3 separate regions of the Homo sapiens genome follow, and regions 2 and 3 are each linked to region 1. Evidence: fine-mapped expression QTL. A gene starts in region 1. Each other region holds a variant in brackets. All regions are shown on one strand. Distances are from middle to middle. Region 1 holds the start of CARS2 (cysteinyl-tRNA synthetase 2, mitochondrial). Region 2 overlaps CARS2 (cysteinyl-tRNA synthetase 2, mitochondrial). Region 3 has its middle 33 kb from the start of ING1.

The links. PIP is the estimated chance that this variant, and not a neighbour inherited with it, causes the effect.
Region 2: its variant is fine-mapped to the expression of CARS2 in whole blood (INTERVAL, PIP above 0.99).
Region 3: its variant is fine-mapped to the expression of CARS2 in whole blood (TOPMed, PIP 0.98). The same link has a PIP of 0.9 or more in lung and prefrontal cortex.

What each region holds. Positions count from the first base shown.
Region 1 is chr13:110,702,245-110,710,425 of GRCh38, forward strand. It overlaps CARS2 (cysteinyl-tRNA synthetase 2, mitochondrial), which reads right to left and starts at 3,872. Exons shown (of 15, transcript NM_024537.4): 1 at 3,626-3,872; 2 at 3,277-3,327. The coding sequence starts at 3,849. RefSeq lists a silencer at 3,680-4,239 and enhancers at 4,290-4,669, 4,680-4,799.
Region 2 is chr13:110,641,362-110,649,542 of GRCh38, forward strand. It overlaps CARS2 (cysteinyl-tRNA synthetase 2, mitochondrial), which reads right to left. Exons shown (of 15, transcript NM_024537.4): 11 at 5,740-5,878; 12 at 4,606-4,729; 13 at 3,024-3,122; 14 at 954-1,160; 15 at 56-247. The coding sequence ends at 176. Among named protein-coding and RNA genes, the nearest start is that of NAXD-AS1, 29 kb to the left of the region's middle. RefSeq lists an enhancer at 7,727-8,181. The variant C/A (reference allele first, on the strand shown) is at 3,991.
Region 3 is chr13:110,742,679-110,750,859 of GRCh38, forward strand. No RefSeq gene overlaps it. Among named protein-coding and RNA genes, the nearest start is that of ING1, 33 kb to the left of the region's middle. The variant A/T (reference allele first, on the strand shown) is at 4,872.

The DNA of each region.
Region 1 (8,181 bases):
CCTAGCCATGTTATTGTATCACTTTAACCTCCCACACACCCCCTCCCTCTCCAAACACAGCTGAGACCAAATCTTGATTCCAGGGACAAAACTATCTCCAAAACTCAACAAGATAATTAACCTCTTACAGCTCAGTCGGCTTGCTTATAAATTTGGCAAAATCCCACCACCTAACAGGACTGCTGTCCAGCCTTACCGCCTGTGCAGCATGAATTCTAAAAACACAAGCTATTATTACCATTCTCATCACCATGCTCCTTCATTCACCTCAAGTTGGGAAAGAGTCTAAAAGATGTGAGATTTACAAGAAAAAAATTACAGGAACCTAAAGCAAATGAAAACAAGAGTCAAGTCCCTTGCTTGGCCCAGAGGAGCCCAGGCTGAGTCCCGGAACTGCCCTTGGAGACAGCAGAGGCTCCACAGCTTGGCAGAGCTGGCGGAATGCAGGGTCATGAGCAATTTGAGACCCTGAGACGCTGCAGGCAGGCTGTGACCACAGGGGCCACTCTATACACAAACACGCACACACACGCCTTGCAAGTGCCGGGCAGCCAAGTCTGAAGAACATGGCATCAGGAGACCTCAGCTTGCTTCTGTGACTCCACCATGAACCATGCTACCGTCAGCCCGGCTCTTTCTGCCCCATTTTCTCCATCCACTGGGTGAGTGTGCTCATCTGGGTGATCGCTGAAATGATTCATTTGCTAAGAGTCTTCCCTCAAAACGCTCCAGTGTGACTCCGTCTACCATGGCATGAAATCCAAACTCTCTGGGCCAGACCACGCAGCACCCTCCCCAGTCTGGCTGCAACTGACGCCCCATCCCTTCCCCTGCTCCTCCCCCCTAGCACCAAACTGATCTATTTGTTTTCCCCAAACAGGGTTTCCATCCCTCTGACCTCTTCTGGAAATGGTGGAGGCTATTTTTCAGGGTGTCTCTTTCCAGTGAACTGAGTGCTACCCATTGCTCAAATTCTACCTTTCTGCAGCAGGCACTGTGTGCATCCCTGTCCTGCTGGAGCTGAAATAATTACATCATGCTAACGACATCAGATGGTTGCATAAATAACCACTGAAGGAGTACAATGCTAGGAGAGCTGAGATGGGGAGAGGGAGGTGGGGCAGGCCAGCCCAGCAAAGGCCTGGAGGGGTTGGCCAGGCTGACAGGAAGGTGGTCAACAGGAGAGTCCCAAGCTCCCACCAGCCCCTGGGAAGGCCCTGTGTGGACACAGCTTATAACATGCATTCAGCTGCGCACTTAAGATGTGTATTCTTTTCTGTAGTCATAAAGGTAAATATTATACAAATTTAAACTGCAAGACTTGACTCTCCTAGTTGGAAATGAGAAGAGATTCTCTCCCCAACAACTTTTAGGATTTCTTCCTCAGTCCTCTTCAAATGCATGTCAATCTTTTAAATGGCTAAATAAACCTCTTGGCAGTTTTACAACTCAAGAAAATTTCAAAACCTGGGACCCACCTCTGAAATGTAATCAAGGAAAATAACGCCCCGTTTCCCAGTGTCCTGGGAGGAGATGGGCCTACCTTGTCATCTGACTCCACACTGTAACTCACCTGAAGCAATGGGTTATGCTATGGTCTGAATGTTTGTCTTCCCTCCAAATTCATGGTTGAAACCCTAACTCCCAAGGTGACGGTTTTAGGAGGTGGAGCCTCTGGGAGTGACAAAGTCATGGAGGCAGAGAGCTCATGACTGGGGTTAATGCCCTCATAGAAGAGACCTCAGAGAATTCCCTCTACCTTCTACCATGTGAGGACACAGCAGGCAGACCCTCAACAGACACCAAATTTGCTGGTGCCTTCATCTTGGACTTCCTAGCCCCAGAAAGAAAGAAATTTCTGTTGTTTATAAGTCATCCATTTTAGGATATTTTGTTACAGCAGACTCATAGACTGAGACAGGCTGTATCCCCAAAGCTCCATAGAAGGATGAGATTTCTTTCTGTCTTTGCAGTTATTTTAGCTCATCCCCTTCTGGTTTAAGGCTTATTCAGTAACAGAACTGTTTTCTTTCTCTTCTACCTTTGTGGAAAGGTTTTCCAGGGTGGGGGTTTTGTTTTTAATATTTCCCCAACATATTTTATAATTCAAGAAAGATGTCGAAATATGCTTTTGATAATTAAAAGTATGTTAGCCCAAAGTAAAGGGGAAAAATGTATATTTAAAGTATACAGAGTATGCCGGGCATGGTGGTTCATGCCTGTAATCCCAACACTTTGGGAGGCCAAGGCAGGTGGATCATTTGAGGTCAGGAGTTCGAGACCAGCCTGGCTGACATGGTGAAACTCCGTCTCTACTAAAAATACAAAAATTAGCCGGGCGTGGTGGTACATGCCTGTAATCCCAGCTACTCCGGAGGCTGAGGCAGGAGAATTGCTGCCAGGAGGCGGCAACTGGACCTGGGAGGCAGAGGTTGCAGTGAGCCGAGATTGCACCACTGCACTCCAGCCTGGGCGACAGAGCGACTCCGTCTCAAGAAAAAAAAAAAGTATACAGAGTAAATGTAACTTTTTACTTTTAGTCTAGGACTGAACAATACTAAGTTTTAAAAAATCTATAATATGTCATTTTTGTACATTATATTTTGGAAATGTACAAAATATTAGGAAAAGTGGTAATTTTGGCAAATGTAGGAGGCAGTACATCTTACAGTTAAAGAGGTCAAGAGAGCAACCACTTCGCAGTCAGAGAAACCAAGCCTCACCCCAGTTCCAATACCTCTTCAATGTGTCATCTTAGGAAAGTTACTCAATCACTATTGAGCCCCGTGACATCTCACATGTGAGGTACAGTGTTAAGCAGCATTTTATGGGCATTATTTACTAAAATTGTTATAAGATCCAAGTTATCATTCCCATCTCAAAGATGAAGAAACCAGGACTCAAAGCAATAAAGTGACCTGCTCAGTGCTGTGAAGCTAAGAAGTGGTGGGGCCCAGGAATGACTGATCAGCAGGACCCCGGGACCCCGCAAAGGCCTCTTGATGTCACTAAACCCAGCAAAAAACATCTAGTTCCAAAACGGGTCATTTTTCAGTGCTCCATTGTCTCCCTGAGTTTCCTCACCTGTAAAACGGGTGTAAGTGCTCAGAATCCCTATAAGAACCAAATGAGGTTGTAACATTTCCCACAATGCCTGGAATGTAGGAATTATTCTGCATCCCTAAGTTGCCACTTAAGAGATAAAAGAAATCAGCAAAAGGCTTTCAAAAATAAATGGTCCTTTGAAGTATGAAAATTCAAATCCAGGAAACTCACCAAGCATGGCCAAGGTGCGCATGATCATATACAGTTGGTCCACAGCTATACCTGGAAACAAAGTTAAAATCCATCGTGTGGAACATATTTGCAAGAAAGGACATTCGATTCTGAGTTATAATGATCATATAATTTTTAAAGTAATCACTTCTGGGGGATGAATAGCCGGGGTTTTCATACTTGCTCAATTCACACCCAAACCTGCAAAAGCACCGCGCACCCCCAGCTTCTAGAACGGCGCCCTCCATGCAGCTTCCTAAACGCCCTCCCCGAGCCCAGATCCCGTTCAGCCGTGGGAAGTCTCCGCCACGATCGGCCCCCGCCCGTGCCCCAGTCCCGCGCGGCCCACCAGGAGGCGGCTTCGGCGTGCGCCACGATTAGGGGTTCCTTCCTCCCGGTGAGGCTGTTGTACACCTGCACACCCGTCTCCCGGCCCGTGGGCTGCAGCCAGGCCCGCCCGCGCCCCCCGCTCGCCGCCCGGCCCGCAGGCCAGTGCCACCCAGCCCGCCCAAGGCCCAGCGCGGCCTGGAGCAGCGGGGGGCCCAGGCCTGGGCCGCGCGTAGTCCTCAACATGTCAGCGGCCAGCGCCTACGACTGGGCGGAGACGGGAGCCACGCCGGGTACGCTGCCGGTCGCTCAAGAGCAGCACGGCCCCGCCCCGCCCCGCCCACGCCCTTGGGGCCACGCCCACTCCCGGAAGCAGTCCTCAGGTAGCGCCTCCCTTTGGCCTGGCTCGAGTCGCCCGCGGCAAGGGTGGAGAACCAGGGCCCGAAGAGGTTGGGGCGGGGAAGGCCCGGGGTGGAGGGAGGAGGGCGGTGCCGCGCCGGGAGGCCGTGGGAAGAGGCGGTACCGTGCCGATCTCCTCTCCTTATTAGCCCAGGTCCTGCGAGGCGTCCGTGTGCGCGCGGTACCAGCCTGGAGCTGTGTCCGCCGCGCGGGAGGAGCGTTTACAGTGCAAGCTTCTGTTGCCGGGCCCTGGCCTGTTAGCGAAGCACGTGTGCATCCCAGCACAGCCCACGTCAGCACGCTAATACACAGTGTCCACCCCAGAACACACGTCAGCACCCCAATACAGTGTGCACCCCAATACAGTGTGCACCCCAAACACACATCTGCGCCCCAATACAGTGTGCACTGCAGCACACCGTTAGCATCCCAACACAGTGCACCCCGATACACAATGTGCAACCCAACACACAGTCTGCACCCCAAGAAGTGTGCACCCCAATACACAGTATGCACCCCAGCACACACATCAGCATCCCAATACAGTGTGCACCCCAATACAGTGTGCACCCCAGCACACACATCTGCACCCCAATAGTGTGCACTGCAGCACACCATCAGCATCCCAACACAGTGCACCCCGATACACAGTGTGCAACCCAGCATACAGTCTGCACCCCAATACACAGTATGCACCCTAGCACACACCACATCAGCATCCCAATACAGTGTGCACTCCAATACAGTGTGCACCCCAGCACACACCATGTCTGCACCCCAGTACAGTGTACACCCCAATACAGTGTGCACCCCTAATACACTGTGCACTCTAACACACACCATGTCTGCACCCCAGTACAGTGTGCACCCCAACACAGCACATGTGCATCCCAGCAAACACTGTCTGCATTCCAATGCAATGTGCACCTCAATAGAGTGTGCGCCCCCACACATCTACACCCCAATACAGTGTGCACCCCAATACACAGTGTGCAACCCAACACACACCATGTCTGCACTCCAATACACAGCATGCCTCCCCCACCATGATCCCGTATCTTGAGAACAAAAACATTCTGAAAGTTACTCACAATAGCTTGACAAACGTGCCTCTATTGGGCCAGGCGCAGTGGCTCACACCTGTAATCCCAGCACTTTGGGAGGCTGAGGCGGATGGATCACCTGAGGTCAGGAGTTCGAGACCAGCCTGACCAATATGGTGAAACCCCGTCTCTACTAAAAATACACAAATTAGCCGGGCGTGGTGGCGTGCATCTGTAGTCCCAGCTACTGGGGAGGCTGAGACAAGAGAATCGCTTGAACCCAGGAGGCAGAGCTCACAGTGAGCTGAGGTCACACCACTGCACTGCAGCCTGGGCAACAGAGGGAGACTCCGCCTGAAAAAAAAAAAAAGTGCCTCTATTGGTGTCTTGCAATACGATGTCTCAAAAAAAAGAAAAAGTCCCCTTTGCTTTTCCAGTTCTCAAAACAGGAGACGTTCCTCTGGTTTTTTGTTGTTGTTTTTAGTTTGCTTTGGTGTTTTATTAAAAAGCAAAGGTTTAAGTAGAGACAAACAAGTGTGTACCTAGAGTAGTTTCTCAATATCCTGGAGTCCAACTCTGCAATTCTGTTTCAAGCTAACTGTAGTCTAATGTAATCTATTGTCTAATTTAATAAGGTTAAAATGTTAGAATTAGGAGACCCTATAGCCTACATCAATGCTAACCACTCATGTTACCTAACTACTCTAAATTCTCCTGAATATTATCACTTCTTGCCTGCCTTATGTTATTTTGTAACTTTCCAGTGCTGTGTGTATATTTATCTCCCTGAGTATCTTAAATTGTACATTATTTTGAACTTCTCACTGTGCCCTGCACTAAATTCAGAAAAGGACTTGGGTTTTGTTTGTTTTGTTTTGCTGTGGCTGGAAAAAAAAAATTTAGAAGAAATAAAAGGGCTTGTTGAATGTTGATGAATTAATCCCTTACGAAAGGGATTAATTGTGCAGGTGGGAAGAAATCTGGGTAGTAAAATACCTGATAAAGCTGATTCAGATATTAGATGTGCCAGTAAATAAAGCAAATTAACAAAAAGCTCAGTTGCAATCTGTGAGAACACACGAATTCAAGGAAATAACTGGAGCAGAGATTCTGAAAGCAGCTTAGTAACACTGAAGATCAAATCTGCACATGAATCTGGACATGCGGTATATTTGAATTGTTCATAGAACATCACAACTTTTAAATTAACAATAGTATCTTCTGTCTTCAGAAAATTCATGTAATGTTTTTAGCCCCTCACTGGCAGTGATTCTATTATGTTTTCTTTTTTTTTTTTGAGGCAGTCTTGCTCTGTCACCCAGGCTGGAGTGCAGTGGCCTGATCTGGGTTCACTGCAGCCTCTGCCTCCTGGTTCAAGCAATCCTCCTGCTTCAGCCTCCACAGTAGCTGAGATTACAAGTGCACACCACCGTGCCCAGCTAATTTTTGCATTTTTATTTTTATTTTTATGTATTTATTTTTGAGACAGAGTCTCACTCTATCACCCAGGCTGGAGTGCAGTGGCACGATCTCGGCTCACTGCAACCTCCACCTCCCAGATTCAAGTGATTCTTCTGCCTCAGCCTCCCGAGTAGCTGGGATTACAGGTGCGTGCCACCACGCTCAGCTAATTTTTGTATTTTTAGTAGAGATGGGGTTTCATCATGTTGGCCAGGCTGGTCTGGGACTCTGGAACTCCTGACCTCAAGTGATCCAGCCACCTCAGCCTCCCAAAGCGGTGGGAATACCGGCCTAAGCCACCACACCTGGCCAATTCTCTTTTCTCTTTTTTCTTTTTTTTTTTTTTGAGATGGAGTTTCACTCTTGTTGCCCAGGCTGGAGTGCAATGGCGTGATCTCCTGGGTTCAAGCGATTCTCCTGCCTCTTTCTCACGTCTCCCGGGTTCAAGCAATTCTCCTGCTTGTCTCCTGAGTAGCTGGGATTACAGGCATGTGCCACCATGCCCAGCTAATTTTGTATTTTTAGTACAGATGGGGTTTCTCCATGTTAGTCAGGCTGGTCTTGAACTCCCGACCCCAGGTGATCCGCCCACCTCGGTCTCTGAAAGTGCTGGGATTACAGGCATGAGCCACCGTGCCCGGCAGCTAATTCTGTTTTCTTAAGGCTTTTGCGGATCATCAAAACAAGGAGAAACATAGCTCATTACCTAATGATGGTTAGAAATGTGATCTTTTTGCATATTGAATATCTGCAGGTTGAATATTAAGGTAAAGTAAAATAGACTGCTAATGCTCTTCATTACTATACCTCCCAGCCTACATCTTTCTCCTGTGCTGGGTGCTTCCTGCCCTCGAACATCAGACTCCAAGTTCTTCAGTTTTGGGACTCAGACTGGCTCTCCTTGCTCCTCAGCTTGCGGACAGTCTATTGTGGGACCTTGTGATTATGTAAGTTAGTACTTAATAAACATATATATGTATATACATTATATATATCTATATCTCCATCCTATTAGTTCTGTCCCTCTAGAGAACCCTGACTAATACACCATATATACATAAAAAGAGGATCCATTTAATTGAAGTCACCTCCCTCTCCAATCTAGGTCAGAACGAGGAAGTGTGTTAAAGTTAATGATTCCAAAATATCACTAATGCCATTTCTCAGTCCTTAATGACAACAATAACAAAATCAAGTTCTCAGTATTACATTTTCTTTCAAGGCAAAATCTTGTAAATCAGAAGTAGAGTTGATTACGGTAGCATATGGTTTAGGGGTTTTCAAGTTTAAGATGAATGAGTTTGCATTTATTTTTTAAGCACTTTGAAACTTAAACAATTCTATGCTTGGCCAGGCGCGGTGGTTCACGCCTGTAATCCCAGCACTTTGGGAGGCCAAGACAGGCGGATCACCTGAGGTCAGGAGTTCGAGACCAGCCTGGGCCAACATGACAAAACTCCGTCTCTACTAAAAATACAAAAATTAGTTGGGCATGGCGTCCGGCACCCGTAATCCCAGCTACTCAGGAGGCTGAGGCAGGAGAATCGCTTGAACCCGGGAGGCGGAGGTTGCAGTGAGCTGAGATCACGCCACTGCACTCCAGTCTGGGTGACAAGAGCAAGACTCCGTCTCAAAAAAAGAAAAAGAATTATATGTTCATCTCTTATATCTGACT
Region 2 (8,181 bases), 61 kb before region 1:
AACGCAGTGAGTGTTTAGGCTCAGTTACTAACAAACAGACGCCAGTGGGACACTGTTGGTTGCCTTACTTTAATGCTGACCTAGCAGCCCCGACAGGAAGCTTTAACATAAAGCCTTGACCCTGAGAAGCATGGGTGCGTCTTGTCGTGAGCAGGTTCATGGCTGTGCTCCATCCTCAGCCCGCTGATTTTTGGTCTTTTGTCCTTTGATCCAGCAGTTCCCACGTGGATGTTGTACTGCTTCTGTCCTGGAGAAGAAGAGTGAGGTCCAACTCTGAGCAGACACCACGTCATGTGGCACAGGGGGCTGACAGGCGTAATCAGGTTCAGGGTGCCTGTTCCCTCACCGGCCTGTCCTAAAAAGCTTGCCAGGCGCTTAGAAAGGGCCCCACTACCTCCAGCAGAAGGCCAGGAGCTTCAAGGCACCTGCAGGAGGTGGCGGGGGCTGAGCAGGACCCACGTCCCCGTGCTCAGCGTCCCCTGCAGCCAACTTGGCCCCTCCCTCACGGCCCTCCCACCTCATTTTTTATGGGGGTGGGTTTCTCTACTCAGAAGCATGGGCAGGGCGCAGTGGCTCACGCCTGTAATCCTGGCACTTTGGGAGGCTGAGGTGGGAGGATCACCTGAGGTCGGGAGTTTGAGACCAGCCTGACCCACGTGGAGAAAACCTGTCTCTACTAAAAATAAAAAATCAGCCGAGCATGGGAGTGCATGCCTGTAATCCTAGCTACTCAGGAGGCTGAGGCAGGAGAATCGCTTGAACCTGGGAGGCAGAGGCAGAGGTTGTGGTGAGCCGAGATCACGCCATTGCACTCCAGCCTGGGTGACAAGAGTGAAACTCCGTCTCAAAAAAAAAGCATGGTCACGGGGGATGTCTGGGCCTCTGATGGCCCCACGTCCTGTTGACCTACCCGGCTCCTGGGGTGATGTCCCTGACCTTGGTGCGGCACTCACCTTGATGTTGATGCCGTGGGCAGTCAGGCCCCGGCGCAGGGTGTCGCATGCTTCCAGCAGGGGCTGCCTTTCTAGGAGCTGCTGCCGCCGGGCGTCCCCCGTGGCCTCGGGCATGGCCAGCGCAAACTGCCGGACCTTCTGCCGGAACCGCACCAGCTCGTCCACCACACCATGCAAGGTAGCCTCGCTGCCGTCTCCTGAAACGTACTGAAGCCAGCAGGGCGCGGTTACGTCCCCCGGAGACTGTGGATTGTGGATGCCCCCTCCCCACCCCGTGGTTGGGCTCTGGGCCGACACCCACCCAGCCCTGGGCTTCCCTGATTCCCTGCAGCTGGGCCTCTTTCTGGGTCTGGCAGGGATGGGTACAGCCCGCGAGCGCTGGGCTCTGGGCAAGGCTCCACTCAACTCTGAGCATCTGTCGTCCAAGCAAGGCTGAGTGATCCTCACTCGGGAGTTGGAAGAAAGGGCTGGGGGCTGCATGCCGCCCCGCCCTGAACACAAACGCTCCCTGGCTTCCAGACCTCACGCAATTGTGGCCGAGGTATCAGGAGCAACCTGAGGATGAGGCTGGGGGGCAGCGACTGAGCGCTTGCACACGTGTGTTTCGGCAAATGGTCTGAGATTCACAGCCTCAGGTGCTGAGGACGGGATTTGCGCAGAAGGCCTCGCGCTGTCCTCCCACTGAGAACAGATCCTGGGGCGGTGTGGAAGGGGCAGCTGTACCTATTTGTTAAATCCATGTGTGTAAAATAAGAAACAGACACAACATTTGACCTTGGTGTCAAACTACTTAAACCTCACACACCCCTCAGTTATTGCTTCCATGATAAAAGACAGTTTTTGTTATTACAGAAATATGAGCCCAGAGTGGGCCCAGACATTGGGCCTTGCGGCCAGAGGAAGGTGAATGAGATATCTTTGACAAGGGCTAGGCAGAGCTTGGCCAGATCCCACTTTTCTTACTCAAAACAGACTCCGGAAAGCCACCCCTAAAAATGAACATGTACATTGCAAAAACTTGGGTCATCTCACACCAGTCGACTTTTATGTGATTGGCAACAGACGCCGGACTGCTGGAAAGGGGAACTAAGTCTACCAGGTGATCAACAGGTATACAAATGAGCCAAACTTGGAAAAGACACTATAGTTCTCTGTTGAGAGCCAGCGAGACATGTTTGGCCCAGAGCCAGGCCTTCAGCACACCTGCTTGGGCCCCAGTCCCAAGCGGCGGGACCCTCGGGGTGCTGGGCAGCTGGTCTAGAGTGGCAGCCCCCGTCCAGGCAGCAGCAGCCGAGCCACACCCCAAAAGAGCCAGAGCGCCTTGTGCTGAGAATTCTACAAGGGTGTCCAAAGAATGACAGGGATGTTCAGGGACACAGCGCCAGCCCCAAGGGGCCTCTGTCAGCCACATACAAAGTGATGGTGGGGACTTTAAGAATAAGGCAGGAAACCTCAAATCTGTATTGATAGAATAAACGAGTTTCAGGTGAGCCTGATAAGGAAGAGGACATTTTCATAGGATCCAAGTCTCTTTGCAAAAATGCTCTTGAGTTACAACGGAAGAGAAGGAATGTGGAGAAGCCTGGCAGCGTCCACCTTCACTGCACAGCCAGGGTGAGCCTCGCTGGGAAGGTGCAGGTGACTCGTGCCTGTCGGGGAGCCCGTCCTGTCCGTACAAAACATGTGCCAGGCAAGGGGGCTCAGGTCGCCAACTTGCCCTCAAATGGGTCAGGAAAAAATGTTCTCTTACTGTGCCTGTGACTTCTGCACATTCTGAGAGTCTTTGAACATAAACGTGTGTGCAGAGCTGGCGACATTCTGTTGCTGAGATGGACTCATCTCTGGTTCTGCGCACGAGAGTTTGCCAACTGCAGAAGTAGAATTGTGCAATTCCAATTAATAAGTATTGGCTCTGAGTGTGTTTATTTTTCCAGGAAAGTAACATGTTTTTAAACAGGTAAATACATTAGTGTGGCATCATAATGCTCTATTCCAAGTTAAAAGGGTAAAGGTTATTGTCCCAACATGGAGAAAATTCCAGAATTAAGCATTTAAAATAATAGGACCTACCTGTTGATTTGCCAGAGAAATTCCAACAGTTTCAAAAAACTGTTCAAAGTAAGAGATGATGGCACCAAACACAGCAGGACTTCTCGGCCCTTCAGGTTCCTGTAAGAGATCATGTCGCAGAAGCTCCTTAAAAGCAGTCTTGATGGCAGTGGGCAAACGGAATTCAATGTCAAAAGACAAAGGCTTCAGCAGGTCACTTCAGTCTGGCCTTTCTCCTGGCTTCTATGGAGGGAGGACACAGCTCTGGCATCGGCTACCTCACTGCAGACCATACAACTATAGGTGCATGAGGAATCTCTTGTGCCTCAGTTTACCCATCAGTCATGTGGGTGGTGACTAGCTCATCAGGCTTCGCGGGTGAAGCATGACCGTGGAGTATGGCAGGTGGCGCATGGTAGGTGGAGGCTGAGTGGGCACTGGGCTGGGTTTCTCAGAAAACGGGGAAATCCTGGTACGTGGCTCACATCAGTTACCAAGCACAGAGACCCTTGGGTGACACTAGCCTTAGTTTGCAGGTGCCCCAGAATTGCAAAGCTTGGGAAGGAAAAGCGCAGGACAAAAGCCAGCCTCTTTACTTGTCCCGCCCCTTGCCACAAGAGGCCCCTGTTGCCCTAGAGCTGGGCCAGCCTGGTAGTGCCGGCAGCAGCTGCGGTGAAGGCAGGAGGCCGCGGACGGGCTGAGGAGGAGGAGCTCCCGTGCAGGAGCAGCCTGGCTGCGGGACCTGCCCCAGCCCGGCCTGGCTGCCTTCAGTGCGGGGCAGCCTGTTCCTGCAGCCGGCTGTGACTCAAATGCCCGCCCCCCTCAGAGGCGAGCCCTGCGCGTCTGCAGTATTTGGACCGAAGGCACCCGGCAAGGGCACATGGCACCCTGCCCCACCTGCTGGTGCTCTGAAACCCAACACTGCACGCAGCCAGGGATGGAGACCTCCACAGAGATGCTCAACTAACAGAGCATGTGGCCAGAACCC[C/A]CAGGTGTTTCCAGAGGTGGGAGAGGCACAAACAGCCTCGGCTTCCCGGGTCATCAAAGGTCACGGGGCTCCTGACGCAGCGCCTCCCAGGGCCTGGCAGGGGACCCTCAGACGTGCAGGAACCAAAGCCTGCCGCCGCCTTCACGGTCTTTGTCCCACCTGCCAAACACTTGCAGTGACCCACGAGTCCAGGCTCAGACCCCTGGGTGCTTGGTGTGGTCATCACACTGGGGTGCAGATTGCATAACAGTGCCTTGGGGTAAATGGGTCTTTCCTTAAAAAGTTCCCCACAAAAGCTCTCTCTGTGAAAGGGCCATGAATGCAGTGGGGACATGAGATGTGTCCCCTGAGGATCAAGCACACAGAATTTCTCAGCCTCAGGGGCTCCTGAGAGCTTGTTCCCCAGGTGGCCCTGAGGCCCGGGAGGGTCAAGCCCCAGGCTGGGTGCCATCCCGTGTGTCAGCGGCAGACTCGGGCTCCATGAGTTCCTCCACAGAAGCTGCGGGAGGCGAAATCAGCAGAGATGCCACCCAGCCGACATGAGAAAAACCCACCAGAGGACCCGACCCATGCCCCTGGCAGCAGGACCGCAAGGCCACCTGTTCGTTGAGCTACCTTCAGGGACGCCCTGAGCTGTCCATTCCCGTGGTGTGCAAGGCCCAGGATGGCATCAACCACCCTGGGTGTGTCAAAATCATCTGCCAAGGCCGCCTTCACGGCCCTCTTGGTGCTGGAGAGCCTGAGGGAAGAGGAGAGAACAGTCACAGCAGAGGGAGCTCCACTCTCCCCAGGCGGCCCCCACACCAGTCCTTCCCCAGGGAGAGACGCTGGGGGCTCTAATCTGGGGACTTTCTCTAGGTCATATTCCCAAAGACTTGAGTTCCTGAGTAGCAGAAAATTATGTAACATCAACTGCAAACTGTCATGTTACCCCAAGAAAAAGTCCCAGAGCAGAGGTCACCTGTGACACTTAAAATACAAGACACACGTGGGCATTTTCATGATGGTTTTAAAAATCAATAGATATTGAGGGGAGTGGCAAGGAAGACTCGGTGGGGGAGAGACGGCACGGCTGACCACTCACAAAGAGAGGCTGGGGAGGCCCAGCCCGGGGCTCCCGGATCTCAGCCTCCCGTGGCCACTGGCTGCCTACCCTGCTGAAGTGGCAGGGGTGGGTTATCACCAAGACCATCCGGAAGACTCTGCATGCCGGGATGAATGTGCAGCGCTGCCCAGGACACCCGTGGGTGGGGAGTGGAGGCGATGCTGTGGGCCCAGGCCTGTGTGTTTTATAGATTTTGGCTCCTCACAGTCAGGACTGGGAGGGATGAGCAGCTCCGCTCCTCGCACAGGGAACCCGAGCCCAAAGCCACTCTGAGCAGGGGGCTCAGAGCCCGAGGGCCCCAGGCACACTTCCTGCCAGCGCCGTCTCCCTGGGATGTCTCGGGAGCCCCTGACCCCACACCTCCTGTCCAGCACCCAGTGTCCTGTGGCCTCTGGGGAGCCCCTGACCCCACACCTCCTGTCCAGCTCCCAGTCCCCTGTGGCCTCTGGGGAGCCCCTGACCCCACACCTGCACCTCCTGCCCAGCACCCTGTCTCCTGGGGCCTCTCTGGGCAGTCCCTGACCCCAAACCTCCTGTCCAGCGCCCTGTCTCCTGGGGGCCCCTCTTCCCCTTCAAGAGCCCACCAGCAGCACCCAGCAGGCCACAGGAGGGGTGCCACGCCGGGTGCTAGGCGGGCCTCTTACCTCTCCCACAGCATCGCTTCCCTGACGGAGCCGCAGGCCAGCTGCCCCTTCATGTAGGCACGTGCGTCCTCCAGGAAAGAGCCCAGCCCCAGGAGCAGCTGCTGAGCTTGGAGCATGGCGCTGTCACTGTAGTCGATGGCTGAGGAGGAAGAGATGGTCACTGAGGCGGTGCCCACCATGCTGTGCCCCTGCCCTGGTCCAGCAGAATCAGTGTTTTCTGAGGGCACTGCCACCCAGGGACCACACGGAGAGCGGGACATGTGGCTCTCACGCCCTCCAGTGACCGCGAGTCCCTAGGCCCACTGGACACAGACCACAGGGTCTGTCCCAGCTCAGTGGCACCTGCCGTGGGAGAACAAGGTGGCGGTGGAGACATGCTCCCAGTGCTTCCAGCCAAGAGGTGCATTTCCACTGACTGGATGGAGGTGCGGATGAATGGCTGGCTCTGGAAAGAAGGAGCCCCGCCCTGGATGGATGGAGGTGCGGATGAATGGCTAGCTCTGGAAAGAGGGAGCCCCGCCCTGGGGTCAGAGGCACCTCTAGGGAAGGCCCTCCCGAGGGAAAGTGCCTGTGTGTGATGGGACAGCCCAAAGAGGGAGGGAGGAGCAGTCCCCAGACCTGGCTTTAGAGTCTGTGGGTGTTTCTTAGGCCACCTGGATGAGGGGCCAGTGTTTCTGTTTACATCTGTTCATTTCTTGTGGTTTCTAGTCTACTGCATTCTGATGGGTAAGACAACAGGAGTGAATCGCTTTGCAATGATCACATATCCTTGGATATCAGCAAAGCCAGCCACATATTTCTAGAACCTTCTCGTGCCTACTCTGTTTCCCAGGCTGTCTGAGTCCACAGTCCATGCTTTTGAGGAGTGCTGCTTTAAACAGCTCTTTGAAAACCACAAGAATAAAAAGAGCCTATCTGGACACATATGCTGAAAATTACATCTCAACATGCCTCCAAGTCCTGACTTCAAAACGAGAATTCCAAAATCAGACATGGCTTCAAGCTGGAAGCAACACAGTGAAAACCTCCCCCAGGGCTGTCTAATATCTTACTTAACATTTTTCCTTTTTTTCTAAATTCACTTTCAGTTTTTGCTTTGAATAGCTTGATAGAAAAGAGAAAAAGCCAGAAACCCACAAAGCGATCTGACAAAATTTAAAGATAATATTCGGGGACTGATAGAGTTGATGCATGGGAGGCTGTTAGAATAAGATTACCATTAATGACACAGCAAGATGAGGCATCCAGATGGGGAGGGGCAGACAGATGCCCAGGATGGAGACGCCTTCTGCCTCAAGGTCAAGGACAGCTGCATTTCTCCAAAGAGGATTCTGCTCTACAGATGGGAGACACTTCTCCAAAGTGTCAGCGCAGCACAGACTGCAAGGGATGCCACCACCGTCCCCCTCCATCTTCCCAAAGGTGAAGAAAGAATGTCTGGGAAGATCCCGAACTCCCACACCATTCGTGGATGGAAGCTCAGACAGCAAGCGACGGCCCAGCTCCTCAAGGCCACCTCCGACCTCGGCGGGGTGGGGCAGTCGTGTCCACTGTGGGGATCCACGTCCTGACTAACCTTGTGTTCCTAGAAATCCCTCACTGGCAGATCGGTGCCTCCTGAATCCCACCCAAAATTCCCACTGGGAATGTGTTCCTGAAAGAGCTGCCCAGGCTTGAGAAAGCCTCTTTTCAGACCAAACTTCGTATTCAAAGCTCAAAAAGAACTGCACACAATTAGGACAGTCATACAAGATGCTGCCCCTAATCCTGCCACAATCTGCGAGAAGGGAGGCGGGGCTTCCGAGGGCAAAGTGCCCCTGGGAAGGGATCCGCAGGGAACAGCTTTGAAAGGACCACAGCCCCCAGCCACGAGGGGAGCAAGCACGAGCCGGGAAGAGAGCTCTGCGCTCGCACACGGGATTCATCTCCGCCGCCTCTGCCCGTTTCCAGCAACACGGAGCCAGGCGGAAACAGTTTCTCCAGCCCATTCGCCTCCCCGACTCTTCCTCTCACGGCACGGCTGGGCTGCTTTCATCACGCGTAAGTGCACACCACACACAGATGCTGCACGAGGCCAGGCGAGCACGAGGCTGGCCACACTTCTTTCTCAAGCTCGTGCGCCCGTGAGCGCAGGTCCCCTGGGCCGATGCACTGCAGTTCCACCCAGGGGAGAGGTTCAGACCACGTCTCAGAAAACCTGAGTTTGCAGTAGAAAGCCAACGACGTGGCGTCAGAGCCAGGATAAAGACATGGCCCAAGGTAGCCTTTCGGTGGTCAAAGGTGCAGGTGTCTGTGTGCCCCTCTCACGCTGACAGGAGCTGCAGGCCGGGTGAAATTCTGCAGGCACAGCACAGGGGAGGGAGATGGATAGGGGACCAGCCCAGGGGCTCACCCAAACCCACCAAAGCTTTGTGTGTGACATAAAGTGTGCTGGCCAGATAG
Region 3 (8,181 bases), 40 kb after region 1:
ATTTATAAAGGAAAGGGTTTTATTGACTCACAGTTCCACATTGCTGGGAAGGCCTCAGGAAACTTACAATCATGGCAGAAGGGGAAGCAAACATGCCCTTCTAGCAGGATGGAGAAATGCAGAGCAAAGGTTGGGGGAAAGCCTCTTATAAAAACCATCAGAGCTCATGAGAACTCACTTTCACAAGAACAGCATGAGGGTAACAGCCCTCATGATTCAATTACCTCTCACCAGCTCCCTCCCACTACACATGGGAATTATGGGAACTACAAGATGAGATTTGGGTGGGGACATAGCCAAACCATATCATTCTGCCCCTTGCCCCTCCCAAATCTCATGTCCTCACATTTCAAAGCACAATCATGCCTTCCCAACAGTCCCCCAAAGTCTTAGCTAATTCCAGCATTCACCCAAAAGTCCAAGTCCAAAGTCTCAACTAAGACAAGGCATGTCCCTTCTACCTATGAGCTTGTAAAATCAAAGCAATTTAGTTACTTCCTAGACACAATCAGGGTATAGGCATTAGGTAGATACACCCATTCCAAAGAGAGAAACTGGCCAAAACAAAGGGGCTACAGGCCCCACGCAAGTCCGAAATCCAATTGGGCAGTCATTAAACCTTAAAGTCCCAAAATGATCTCCTTTGATTCCATGTCTCACATCCAGACCCTGCTGATGCAAGAGGTAGGCTCCCATGGCCTTGGGCAGCTCTGCCTTGGTGGCTTTGCACAGCCCCCTCCTAGCTGCTTTCATGACCTGATGTTGAGTGTCTGCGGCTTTTCCAGGTGCATGGTGCAAGCTGCTGGTGGATCTACTATTCTGGGGTATGGAGGAGAGTGGCCCTCTTCTCACAGCTCCATTAGGCAGTGCCCCAGTGCGGACTCTGTGTGGGGGCTCCAATCCCACATTTCCCTTCTGCACTGCTCTAGCAGAGGTTCTCTATTAGGGCTCCACTCCTGCAGCAAACTTCTGCCTGGACATTCAGGTGTTTCCATACATCCTCTGAAATCTAGGTGGAGGTTCCCAAACCTCAGTTCTTGACTTTTGTGTACCCACAGGCCCAACACCATATGTAAGCCACCCAGGCTTGGGGCTTACATCCTCTGAAGCAATGGCCCAAGCTGTACATTGTCCCCTTTTAGCCACAGCTGGCACTGAAGCAGTTGGGACTTAGGGCACCAAGTCCCTAGGCTGCACAGAGCAGAGGGGCCCTGGGCCCAGCCCATGAAACCATTTTTGCCTCCTAGGCCTCGAGGCCTGTGATGAGAGGGACTGCTGTGAAGTCTCTGACATGCCATGGAAGCATTTTCCACATTGTCTTGGTGATTAACATTCAACTCCTCATTACTTATGCAAATTTCTGCAGCTGGCTTGAATTTCCTCCCAGAAAATTGTTTTTTCTTTTCCAGCACATCATCAGGCTGCAAATTTTCCAAACTTTTTTGCTCTGCTTCCTTTTGTGTGCTTTACTGCTTAGGAATTTCTTCTGCCAGACACCCTAAATCATCTCTCTCAAGTTCAAAGTTCCACAGATCTCTATGGCAGGGGCAAAATGCTGCCAGTCTCTTAGCTCAAACATAGCAAGAGTCACCTTTATTTCAGTTCCCAAAAAGTTCCTCATCTCCATTAGAGACCACCTTAGTCTGGACTTTATTGTCCGTATCACTATCAGCATTTTGGTCAAAGCCATCCATCAGGTCTCTAGGAAGTTCCAAACTTTCCCATATCTTCTTTTCTTCTTCTGAGCCCTCAAAACTGTTCCAGCCTCTGCCTGTTACCCAGTTTCAAAGTCATTTCCACATTTTTGGGTATCTTTATAGTATTGCCCCACTACCCAGAACCAATTTACTCTATTAGTCCATTTTCATGCTGCTAATAAAGACATTCCTGAGACTGGGTAATTTATAAAAGAAAGAGGTTTAATTGACTCACAGTTCAGCATGGCTGGGGAGGCCTCAGAAAATACAATCATGGCAGAAGGGGAAGCAAACACACCTTTCTTTACATTGCGGCAAGAAGGAGAAGTGCAGAGCCAAGAGGGGGAAAAGCCCCTTATAAAACCATCAGATCTTGTGATAACTCATTATCATGAGAACAGCATGAGGGTAACTGCCCCCTTGATTCAATTACCTTCCTCTGGGTCCCTCCCATGACATGTGGGGATTATGGAAACTAAAATTCAAGATGAAATTTGAGTGGGGACACAGCCAAATCATATCAATACTTCACCAAATTGCTATAAATTATAGATAGTTTAAGAGAGAAAATTTTCTTAAATCCGTGAAAGAAAGCATTTCAGTAGAGAACAATGTTTCAAATAACACTCATAAAAGCATTATCTTCATCAGTTATTCAATCTCATGTAGTCAACTTTTGTTCTGCTTGATCTCCATTAGTTTCATGAGTTCTTCGCCTCTTTATTAAAATTCTGGAAATCTTTATTTATCTTAGGTGTGGCAGAAACCTGTATTTAACAGTACTTGCTGGAGTCTTTTCCACAAATCTGATTATAAAATTTTTTGAGAAGAATTTTCTTTTTTTATTTTTTTTTTGAGACAGAATCTTGCTCTGTCTCCCAGGCTAGAGTGCGGTGGCATGATATCAGTTCACTGCAACCTTTGCCTCCTGGGTTCAAGCGATTCTCCAGCCTTAGCCTCTTGAGTAGCTGGGATTGCAGGTGTGTGCCACTACACCTGGCTAATTTTTCTATTTTTAGTAGAGATGGGGTTTTGTCATGTTGGCCAGGTTGGTCTTGAACTCCTGACCTTGGGTGATCCACCCACCTTGGCCTCCCAAAGTGCTGGGATTACAGGTGTGAGCCACCACACCCAGCCGAGAAGAATTTTAAAGAATAACTGTGGATGACAAAAACTTAGAGTAGTCATGGTTAAAAATCTGATAAACATAATCAACAAGGAAATTTAGTTATTTCTATTACGTATAGTATTTCAAGATAACCAGAATTATGACTGATAGCATATTAGATTTCTATGACTATGTAATTTTAGAAACATATAAACAGCATACCTGTAAATGTAACTAAAAGATCTAGTATCATGTATTATTTGACAATGTTTTTCACACAATTTACCAAATAAGCCTAATCATTTAATATCTCTACAAGATGAGAAATATATCTTTCAAAGCTTTCCACAGGTCTGACTGGAAAATCTCAGAGTTAATTCAAGGTGAAAAAAACTTAAGTTAGGAGTTGATATTAGGGACATTTGTCAAAGATGTCAAAAGGTGCAAAACAGGTCATGCATAGTGGCTCACGCCTGCAATCCCAGCATTTTTGGAGGCAAAGGCGGGCAGATCACTTGAGCCTGGGAGTTTGAGACCAGCTTGGGCAACATAATGAAACCCTGTCTCTACAAATAACCAAAAAATTAGCCTGGTGTGGTGGTACATATCTGTGGTCCCAGCTACTAGGGAGGCCGAGGTGGGAAGGTCACCTGAGCCCAGGAATTTGAGGCTACATTGAGCCATGATTGTGCCACCGCACTCTGGCCTGGGTGACAAAGTGGGACCCTGTCTCAAAAAGGAAAAAAAAAAAAAGGCCCAAAACACTTGATCAAAACAGAATCAGAGGTCACTATAAAATAATAGTCATTCATTTAACCAGAGTGACAACTGAAAGACTTCAAAAGCAATATGGAAAGTTACACGATTGTAAAAATATTAACCCTTCCAAGCTCACTTTTCCTAAGTAATCAAAAACCTACAAAAGGCAACACAGGAAATTATCTTGGTAAAGCATAAAATCTTTGTTTCTTAGGTCAGCTACCAAAAAGGCAAAGAACCTTGCACAGTGTGATGATTTCTCGTTACAGAAAGTTCATTTAGATAACCTGGAGGTCAAACCTGATAAAAAAAAAAGGGTGCTTGAATTTAATTAGACAGAGGAAAAATGTGTTCAAGATTATGAGTGTACACTACATCATAAAGGAATGTAAACAAGAAAACTAGCAGCTTAAGCAGAGGAATATATGGCTTTTAGTAACAGCATGGGAAGTTTCTTGGTTACATGGAACAATTCAGACATATTAAGAAAAGCCAGGAGTACAGAATCAAGTTATGCTAAACAAAACATTGCTTTTCTAGGTCTTCAGGGTAAACATTTCAGTGTCAGGCAGCAGAGTTAGAACAGAGGGGGATAAAGTTACAGGAGTGTGCAAGAAAGTTGAAGGAAAGAGTTATAATCCTAGGACTTTTCAAGGGGAGAGTAAGTTGGAGGCAATGATATATGACTGCAAATTATGTGCAGCAAATACAGCAAAAGTTAGACTTCTGAGATACACATTTGAAAAATCTCTAAAACAAAACTCTAGCTCAAGAAAAAATTATGTTAAATGAAGAGGACAGCATTTTAAATCTAAAACTAGGGAAATGAATCTCAAAAAGCAGATGGCTGTTAAAGAAACAGATTTTTAAAATTAAAAATCAAAACCTCTTGCAATTTAATTCACAGCAGATCAATACTTTCAGAAAACTTTCATTTGAAATATAGAGGTATAGACTCTGGTCCTGTGTCACGGTGCCGTGGACACCAATGTGGAACTTTTAGAAAAATACATAATTTATTTCCAATCCCAGACAATCTGATTACACATGTAACTTACTTCATTAGGCCCATCTTTTATAAATCCTCTTTGACTTGTTTAGACCTTTTATCACTTTCTTAAAACTTCCAGTCTTAGTCCCATAATTTTATTTTTAAACAACAAATTATTTTGTCATAGGACAAAGATTTACCACATAAAATTCTCATGCAAAATTATTTTTTCCTAAATTCATATTTTAATTAATAGATCTAAATATATTTACTTTTTATAAAATTTAAGAAGCCAAAAATGACGTTTTGTTTATTT[A/T]GCAATTTGTTTCAGTTTTAAGAAATCTTATTTAGCTACAATCCAGATATTTAATGTGCATTATTTAATTTTACATAACATAATTTTAACATTTACATGAAAAGTTTATTTATAAACATTTATTTTTATTTACAATCATCTAATTTCTTTGTTTTTAACAGTTACATTTTATGGGTGCTCTAGTTTAATGCCAAATACACAAAGCCAATTAAATGTAGCACTGAATATGCAGAGGCCAACTGAATGCAAGTGCAGATGGAAAATAAAGTGTGTACCTCCCAGGAAGGACGATAGGCCTTCTCCAAATGAAGGACAAAATCCCCTCATCCAAACCTTGGAGCTGAGGTCAACAGGAGGAAAATAACTTTCCCCAAGAGGAGATCTTTCCAACAGGAGTGGGACAAACCCTCCCAACCAAATCACGAATAAAATGGAACTCGAACAAAATGGAGGGGGAGAAGAGGCCACTTGCAGATGCAGCGGGGTTCAAAAGGCTCCACTGTGGGCACCTCACACCGCTGTTCCAAGAACCAGTAATTCTTCCCGAGGTGAGTCAGCTTTGGATTTTACTAATGACGCTGTGTATGATAAAGTCAAATAAAATCTGTAGAGAAAAATCTCTAAATTTAACATTTTATTTGGGATATGAGAATTGCCATTTGGGGCATATACACACAGACCAGGTGGTCTTTGGGATGTCCAAAGAATAAAGTTGAGGTTGGAGATTTTATAAAAAGGAGAAATGCTATGTATTACTCTTTGATCATTGGCACTTGTTAAGTTTTGGGGAGCTGGCAAGTTCTGATGGTGAGTGACAGCAGTGGGTAAAACTAGTCTTAGAGGTGCAGCACGTTGTTTCAGAAGTTATCAGGTAAAACTGGTTTCAGGTTACAGCAGAAGTTCAGCAGCCAGGCATGCGAAGGGTTCAATTCTCGGAGCAATGCTGTGTGGGCTTAGAGCTGCCCCCCGGGCTTCTTGACTCTGGGTTAGTTGGGCATGACAGGAATGACCCAATTCATAAGAACCACTTTCCCAGTTGCATATATTAATTCAGAATAGATGATTGCTGGGTGGTTCAATTTCTTGCATGTCTGAACTTATTCTCCTCCATTAAAAAATATATTCCTTCTGGAATTCCTCTTCCTATTTTCTTGTTTAATTCCTATTTTCTTTCTTTCAGGGCTTGCTATGTTACCCAGTTATTTACTGTTTCATATACATTGTATGTTTTTTTCTTCTTCCAGGTTTGTCCCATAATTCTTCGGGCCTCTCTCAAGCCTTCGAGTGGATGCTGTTTCATATTTCATCCAGCCTGGGAGTTGGAGACCTGAGCTGCATTACCTAAGCCACTGTTAGCAGAAGCCAATAATAATAATAATAATAATGATAATTCTTTTTTGTTTAACTTATCTTTTATATCTTCTCTTATTACTGCTCTATATATTCCGGAAGATTTCTCCAATTATATTTTCCATATCCCCTACTTGTTCTTCACCGTTACCTACTGTAATATTATAACTTGAAGAAATTTTTTAAAACAACAAATAGAGACAGGATCTCGCGCTTTTGCCCAGGCTGGAGTGCAATGGTGTGATCATAGCTCATTGCAGCCTTGAACTCCTGGGCTTAAGCAATCCTTCCACCTCAGCCTCCCAAGTAGCTGGCATACGCCACCATGCTCGGCCAATATTTTATTTTAAAATTTTTTGTAGAGACAGGGTTTCACCGTGTTGCCCAGGCTGGTATCAAACTCTTGGTCTCAAGTCATCTTTCCACCTTGGCCTCCCAAAATGCTGGTATTACAGGCATGAGCCACTGCACCTGGCCAACTTTTACTTTTATTTTATTTTATTTTTTAAATGGAGTCTTGCTCTGTCACTCAGGCTGGAATGCAGTGGCCAGTCTTGGCTCACTGCAACCTTTGCCCTCTGGGTCCAAGCAATTTTCCTGCCTCAGCCTCCCAAGTAGCTGGGACTACAGGCATGTGCCACCACGCCCACTAATTTTTGTATTTTTAGTAGACAGGGTTTCGCCATGTTGACCAGGCTGGTCTCGAACCCCTAACCTCAAGTGATCTGCCAGCCTCTGCCTCCCAAAGTGCTGGGATTACAGGCATGAGCCACCATGCCCGGCAGCTTTTACATTTTTAATGTAAAATGTAAAATGGCTGCACCTGGCCAGCTTTTACATTTTTAATGATGTAAATGTAATGAAGGATTTATTATTATATATTGCATTATAAATGTAATGAGAGATGTATTCGAGGAGTTTTGGGGAGAAATCTGGTGTCTTTCTAATCTTGCCTTGGCTATGTTCCTTTGTAGGTGTTTGAAGTTAACATGCTTTATTTGTTCTCTGTTAAGATGCTGCACCCGCACTATGAGTCTCCGCATACAGGTGGCTCACTTTTTTCTATGAATTAATTGAAACATATCAGAGGTAGAGGAAGTAATGTGTTAAACAGCATATGTCTTCCACCTAACTCAGAAATACAAGTTTACAGATTTAATGTGGTCAAATTTATTTATAGTTTGTGCTCTTTTGTCTTACATGAGAAATGTTTTTTTCCACATTCAAAAAAAAAATCTTGATATTTAGATATTTTGCCGTCTTTTCTTTCTTTCCTTCCTTCCTTCGTTTCTTTCTTTCCTCTATTCCTCTCTTTTCTTTTCTTTCTTTCAGGGCTTGCTATGTCACCTGGTTATTGACTGTTTTATATACATTTTTGAATCTCTTATCATAGTCCATGAAAAGCCCTGTCGAGATTTTACCTGCAATTGCATTCAATGTACACATAAATTGGACAAACATTCTTAACACATAATGTCTGTTAATTTACTTTGGTCTTCTATTAATTTTCTAGATCCCTCCTGCCCCCGCAATAGACTAGTACATATTTTGTTAGCTTTGTTCCTAGAGTCTTATGTTTTACCTTTTCAAAATTAACATATTTGGCCGGGAGTGGTGACTCATGCCTGTAATCCCAGCACTTTGGGAGGCCGAGACGGGTGGATCGCTTGAGCTCAGGAGTTCAAGACCAGCCTGGGAAACATGGCAAAAACCCATCTCCACAAAAAAAAAAAAAATTAGCCAGGTATGGTGGCACACGCCCGTGGTCCCAGCTACTTGCAAGGCTGAGGTCAGAGGATGGAGCCATAGTTATAGAGACATTGTTATAGAGACATTACATTGCCAGAATTGTGTTGCTGAAGCAGGCTGGAAATGGAGGATGTATTCTGACCTTTCTATTTCTCCATTCTCTGACCATCTACTAGTGACTCCCCTTGGCTGATTTCAATAGGGAAGCAGA